2 separate regions of the Homo sapiens genome follow, and region 2 is reported to be linked to region 1. Evidence: microRNA targets listed by miRTarBase, many of them from high-throughput screens and not tested one by one. Region 1 holds a microRNA gene; the other region holds the end of a gene's coding sequence.
Evidence for each region. The annotated mature microRNA hsa-miR-6889-5p reads UCGGGGAGUCUGGGGUCCGGAAU and lies in region 1 at 1,386-1,408, shown strand. An mRNA with a match to its seed (bases 2 to 7 or 8) in the 3' UTR can be bound and repressed. Matches are read on the target gene's strand: a 7mer-m8 pairs with bases 2 to 8, a 7mer-A1 pairs with bases 2 to 7 and ends in A, and an 8mer does both.

Region 1 (3,393 bases):
GAGGAGGAAGATGAGGAAGAGGAGGAAGAAGAGGAGGAGGAGGAGGAAGAAGAGCCTCAGCAGCGAGGGCAGGGAGAGAAGTCAGCCACGCCCTCACGGAAGATTCTGGACCCTAACACTGGGGTGAGTTTCTATCATCTGCCACAATCAGAGCCCTGGTCCTGAGAACGTGAAATCCCGAGGCACTTTCACAATGGGGTAGGGGGTGTCTCCTTAAGCACAGTAGCCACAAACATTTTTTTTTGATTGCATGATATTGAGTAAAAAAAGGAAAATGGTCCCAGTGTAATGATAGTTACCTATATTTCTTTTTTTTTTTTTTGAGATGGAGTCTCACTCTTGTCACCCAGGCTGGAGTGCAGTGGTGTGATCTCGGCTCACTGCAACCTCTGCCTCCCGGGTTCAAGTGATTCTTATGCCTCAGCCTCCCAAACAGCTGGGATTACAGATGCTTGCCACCACGCCTGGCTAATTTTTGTATCTTTAGTAGAGCCGGGGTTTCGCCATATTGGCCAGGCTGGTCTTGAACTTCTGACCTCAGGTGATCCACCCTCCTCGACCTCCCAAAGTGCTGGGATTACAGGCATTGAGCCACCGGGCCCAGCCATAGTTACCTATATTTCTATTTACCCCAATATAAATGTCTATTTACAGGTAGCAGTGCTGCTGCATTATGTATATTATAAGATATGCATAAGGGTTTCTGAAAGAATAAACAAATAAGCATAAATAGAAATTCTGATTTTTTTTTTCCCCACCCACCAGAGGATTGTCTTGGTGACCCTTAGGAACCACTCCCCCATTCCTGGGATGGTGGCTGGGCCATGACCTGGCTTGGGCACTTGGTGTCCCTTGTCTGGCCCGGGGCTGCATCAGGGCTGCCACACCTCCAGTTCATTCATTTGCATTCCCTGTCAGGTTCCTAAGTAAAGCTCCTGGAGAACTTGGCTCTGGACAAGGACTCCCCATGCTTACGCTGAATTGGGCTGCTTCTCTGGTTTATGGAATCAATTAAACAAATGGCTAGGTTCGCCTCAATTCAGTTTTTCCTCTGGGCACCTCTGGTGCTAGCAGGGCTTACCCAGGCTGGACTGTAGTTCTACGGGGACCCACTTTAGCCCCCATGTGCCTCCGTAGTCATTTCTGGGGCACTGCATGTCATGACGAGGATCCACTTGGCCGTAGCAGGTTTTTTGAGTCCCAGGGAGGTAGCTTCCCCCTCACCCCAAAGGCTCCTGGACCAAGAGCCATCCAGGGCCAGCATCTCTGGGTGATATTGATAGATGGGAAATGCAGCTGAGTGGGAGGAAGAATTCTAGACTTTGAGCCTAGATGGGCTGGAGTGAAGGGTGGATGTGCTGGGTGTGGGGATGGGCACAGCTGTGTCGGGGAGTCTGGGGTCCGGAATTCTCCAGAGCCTCTGTGCCCCTACTTCCCAGGAGCCAGCTCCCGTGCTGTCCTCCCCACCTCCTGCAGACGTCTCCACCTTCCTGGCTTTTCCCTCTCCAGAGAAGCTGCTGCGCCTAGGGCCCAAGAGCTCCGTGCTGATAGCCCAGCAGGTAATAACCACCCCTCGACCCCCACGCTGTACGTGCTGTGGCTTCTGGAGCTGTTAGAGAAAAGGGACGAACAGCTCAGAGACCTGGGGGTGCGACGCTGTCAGCTGGGGGCAGGGAGGCTTGGCCTGCCACTGTTACAACACGCGCAAATGTCCAGGGTATTTATAAGCCTCCAGGGGTTGCAAATGTTCCCTCCCCACTCAGCCTACAGAAAGTACAGCCCGCCAGTTCCCATGCTGACTGGGGTTAGGGAATTTCCTTAAGAGCCTTGCATGTGCCCACCCCCTCCTTGGCTTCTCTCTGCGTGTTCCGTCAGCCCAGCTGCTTCGAGAACAACTCTGTTGCCCAGGGCTCCTTTGGAAGTGACGTGCCTATTGCAGGATGGGTGCCCTCACTCCAGCCTCACTTGTTGGTTGGCTCATTCATTCATTCATAGATGATCTTCGGGGCATCCATTTTCTGCCAGGCACTGCATTTGGGCATGATTTTATTTAACCCTCTTGGCAACATGAAATGTAGACTCTGCTGCCCTTACTTTATTTTATTATTTATTTATTTATTTATTTTTTTGAGATGGAGTCTCACTCTGTCGCCCAGGCTGGAGTGCAGTGGCACGATCTCGGCTCACTGCAGACTCTGCCTCCTGGGTTCAAGCAATTCTCCTGCCTCAGCCTCCCGCGCCCAGCTAATTTTTGTATTTTTTAGTAGAGACGAGGTTTCACCACGTTGGCCAGGCTGGTCTCAAACTCCTGACCTCATGATCCACCCACCTCGGCCTCCCAAAGTGCTAGGGTTACAGGCATGAGCCACCGTGCCCGGCCAGCCCTTATTTTGTAGATAAGAAAGCGGAGGCTCGGAGGTTACAGAGAAATAAAATGGGCCCACTCTCAGAGTTGGCTTAACATTTCGGCCAATTGCTTTGTTAGGTTTTGCCTGTATTCTTTGTTTCTTTTAACATGATAAATCAGATGTTGTAAGCCTTTCTGTGGCCTATCACTTTGGTGTAGCACCATTCATCACTTTCTTGTGCCCATAAAACTCTTCTCAGGATTTTTATTGCAATGTGTGGATGTAGCACTTAAAAGCCAGGCACTGTTTCTGACGTTTTTTCCACTTTTCCCTGTTGTGAGGTTGAGGTAAACGTTTCTGCATGTGAGTATTGTCTACATGCTAGATTATTTCTTCAAGTTCAATTACAAGATGGGGACCACTGGATCCCTGAAATGATTTTTTTTTTTTTTTTTCTGAGACAATGTTTTGCTTTGTGACTCCGGCTGGAGTGCAGTGGTGCAATCATGGCTCAGTGCAACCTCGACCTCCTGGGCTCAAGCAGTCCTCCTGCCTCAGCCTCCCAAGTAGCTGAGACTATAGGCACACACCACCAACCTTGGCTAATTTTTTTCCTTTTTGTTGACATGGGGTCTTGCTATGTTGCCTAGGCTGGTCTCAGACTTTTCGCCTCAAGCCATCCTCCCACCTCAGCCTCCCAAAGTGCTGGGGTTACAGGCATGAGCCGCCACACCCGGCTGGGATGATTTTTCATCCTTGTTCATTCACTCATTCATTCCCTCTCTATGCTGCATATGTGCTTGCTGCAGGCCAAATCCAAGCCAGACTCTGAAGGGACAGCATGGGGTAAGGCAGGACCTGTTCTTGCCCGCCAGGGGCCTTTGTACTGCCCAGGCCTCTCCTAGCTAGCGTCAGAGCCCAGGTACCTCTCCACCACGTGCCACAGGCCAACCATTGTCTCTTTTGTCCTCAGACTGACACGTCTGACCCCGAGAAGGTGGTCTCTGCCTTCCTAAAGGTGTCATCTGTGTTCAAGGACGAAGCT
Region 2 (3,393 bases), not on the chromosome of region 1:
CATGAGAGGAATGGGGGCCGAAGGAACTTCTGCGGTCACTGCCAGGGTGGGTTTGTGAGCATGGAGCGGCCGCCTAGCCTCACCTTGCCGTGGGTGAGCAGCTCCAATGCAGGTGAACTACAGGGCCGACGGCAAGTGCCACAAGAACCCATGTTCCTTTCTTTACCTGGGACCCACGCCGTGCCTACTGGGCACGGAGCTGCTGCCCAAAACACATTTGTAGAATGAGTGAGTGAGGGGTGGGCAATGACTACCTGAGTGCATGAATCAGTAACGGACAGCGTGTGACACCAAAGCACAGGTCAGGTGTTGGGTCCGGTGCAGGCTGATGTCAAGGTGGTCATGTGAGCTCGCTCAGTTCTGTATTACAAAGTGGGATGAGTAGTGCAGAGCTGGGATTTGAGCCTGGCTCCTCGCCCCTGCATCTTTGCTCATGCCTGGGAGGGCAGCTCCAGTGAGTTAACACATGGCTTGGGGATTCCCCCCTCCACACACAGTCATACAAGGCAGGCAGGCAAGCTCTCCTTTCCACAGGGCAGGAAGCCAAGGGTCAGAGAGGTTAGTCCACTTGCCCAGGGTCACACAGCCTTAAGGGGCAGGGTGGAAACTTGCCCTGAATCTTTCTTGCTATAGGTGTCAGCTCCTGCCACCATATACTGGAGCAGGTAGAAGAGGCTGACCCGAGACTCAGTGTGCCCGACTTATGGGGCACCGAGCTGCCAATTCTACCAGACAGGGCACCTCCCATCCTCCCAGGCCTCCAGAAGTGCCCAAGGCCAGAGCTCCACAGAAGGACCCTAGGAGAAGTGAGCAATGCTTCCTCAGTCTTTGCTAACCCAGCCCACTCTGAACTGCCAAGGTTCACCCCCTCCTTTCGAGTGACCTGAAATTTCAAAAACTGACATGCAATACCAATTATCTAAGCAAGGCTCTGGCCACTTGAGAACACGCTTTTTTGATCCACAATCACTCCCTAGTCCTCTAACAAATCCTCCAGGATCTGTAGACCATCAGTGGCCCTGGTTTCTAAACCCCCTGCCTCCAGATGAGGCCCCAGGACCCTCCTCAAGCACATCAGGGTGTGAAAGGGCAGATTAAGGGCTCTAACTGGAAATCCGAATTTCTCCTTCAAGTCCCCCTCTACTATGAAACCCCCAAGTCAAAGACGCCTGCAGCTTGCCGCCTCCAATCGCTCCTGAGTAATCGCAGCCTTCAGCCAGGTTGAAAATACCCCTTTGGGACCCTCACTGCGGCCTCCCAAGGCCCCAGGAACATGGGTCCTCAGGACCTGGGCTGTGGGTCCAGGAAACCAGTCGCCATGGTCGAGCCCCCTTCTGATCATGAACAACAGCGCTCACCTGGCAGGGCGGCTGCAGCGGCTCTACCGGACCAAGCCCCTCGGGCACGCGCACTGCCTGAAATGCCCTAAGCGCTCGGCTGGACTGTGGCATACCCGCCCTCTCCCCCAGCCCCTGGCTGGCTCGTCTGCCTGGCCCCTGCAGCAGAGACAGCTGAGCGCACCATCCTCCTCCCGTAGGGGGCGGGGGGTCCTGTCCCCGGAGCGGCAGCCGCCGGGACCTCATCTCCCAGCCTCCTTCGCAGGGAGCCGCAACCACGGGACCAGCCCCGTGAACGACCCAGGTAGGGGGACGTGCGCCCTTTGCAGTCAGAGTCTCCCCCAGAAGCTGGAGGCAGGAGGAGGGTGCTTTTGGGGTTAGGGGCGGGGGCCACACGATAGGAGTGGAGGAAGCCAGCCGCCCCTGTGAGAGGGTGGTAGAAGCCGTGGGGGCTCCTTCCCCTGCAGCGGGCAGGCCTGGCCCTGACCAGTCCGCCCTGCCCCATCTACAAGCAGCTCCCAGGCCCTGTGAGTGCCCGCACCATAGTGAGGATATCCGCGGACAGGCCCCCCTGCCTAGAGCCCTCCGCGGGCGACCCAACGGGCCACTCCCGGGGCGCGGCTGACGCTCTGCTGATGCCCCGGCGAGAGCCTCCGTTTACCCCTCTTGCCCTTCTCCCTCCCGGACTCAAGAACCACGCAGAGGGGGACATTTGGATAGTGCCGTTTATTGTTCCAGCACCCCTTCCTCCACCACGCCCAGGCCTGGGACAAACGGGCACCCGCCTCCTGCGGCGCTGCCTCTGCTACCCGGAATCCAGGAGGGGAAGGAACGACTCGAGCTCTAAGGATGGGACCCGGAAGGCAGAAAAAAATAATGGATTGGGGCGGGCGGGGAGTCAAAAGGTGGGCTGATTAAAAGAAAATTCTAAAAGAGAAAAGGGCCCCTGGTTCTCTTCCCTCTCTGGGATCCTCTAAAGGGCCTGGTTTCTCCATTCCTCGCAGCACCCCCCACCCCCGCCCCGGACAACTGAGGAAGAGCAGGGAAAATGGCCTTCCGCTTGGGGCCTGGTCGCCACTCGGCCTCTGCAGTTCTCTCCATTGTCTCTCCGGCTCGCAGGCCGATAACTTAGGAAGGGCGGGCCAGGCTGAGGGGGCAGAGTCTCGAGGCGGAGAAGTGAACGGGCCCTAATACGCCCCAGTGCCCCCCCACGGACGGCGCAGGGACAGAGGAGGGCGGGGAGCCGGGGATGCCGCGGGGTCCATCGCACCCCGTCCGCTTCTCCCTGGGTCTCTTGGTCTTGCACGTCGTCGCTCCCGCCAAGCCCGAGGGGCCCTGCCCGCCCCCCCCCCCGGGCCCCTCCCCTACCGGCCCTCCCCACCGCGGCACTCGGGGCACCGCCCGCCCGCGGCCTCGTCGTCGTCGTCCTCCTCCTCCCCGCCCGCGCGGTAGTAGCTCTGTCCGCAGCTGCTGCAGACCGAGGGCGCGCCCACCGCGTGGATCTTCTTGTGTCTCCGGAGCGCGGCGCCCTGCACGAAGCCCTCCCCGCACTCCACGCAGATGTGGGCCGGCTCCTCGCCCCCCGCCGCCCCGAGCCCGTCCCCGTGCTGGGCCCGCTGGTGCGCCAGGAGCCCGGCCCCGTGCCCGAAGCCCTTCCCGCACTCCAGACACACGTACGGCTTGGGGGCCGGGGCGCGCCGCGACCGGGGCCCCGCGGCCTTTGCCCCCGCGCCCGCCATGGCTGCCGCGGCCGCGGCCCCCTCGCCCGGCGCGCCCACCACGATGATGCCCTCGCCATCGCCCACGGGGATGGCGATCTCGCCGTCCGCCGCCACCGCCTCTTCGGGCCCCTTGGCCCGCCGGACGCTAGCCGCCAGCACCTTGGCCGCCACGCCAGGCCCCGACAGCTCCGGGTGCAGCCGCAGGTGACGCGCGAGGCTCTTGGGCTGGCTGAAGCCGCGGCCGCAGCGCGGGCACACGAAGGGCTTGAGGCCGCTGTGCGAGCGCCGGTGCTTGGCCAGGCTCTTGCTCTGAGTGAAGCTGCGGCCGCAGTCGG

Region 2: miRTarBase lists ZNF787 as a target of hsa-miR-6889-5p. Seed matches in the 3' UTR shown: 7mer-m8 at 2,574-2,580 and 7mer-m8 at 2,229-2,235.

The regions. Positions count from the first base shown.
Region 1 is chr22:41,251,038-41,254,430 of GRCh38, reverse strand. MIR6889 (microRNA 6889) reads left to right here and starts at 1,381; the gene lies at 1,381-1,439. It overlaps RANGAP1 (Ran GTPase activating protein 1), which reads left to right. Exons shown (of 16, transcript NM_002883.4): 11 at 1-123; 12 at 1,440-1,559; 13 at 3,322-3,393.
Region 2 is chr19:56,085,322-56,088,714 of GRCh38, forward strand. It overlaps ZNF787 (zinc finger protein 787), which reads right to left. Exons shown (of 3, transcript NM_001002836.4): 3 at 2,045-3,393. The coding sequence ends at 2,702. Among named protein-coding and RNA genes, the nearest start is that of LINC01864, 20 kb to the left of the region's middle. RefSeq lists enhancers at 1-191, 192-691, 1,027-1,626.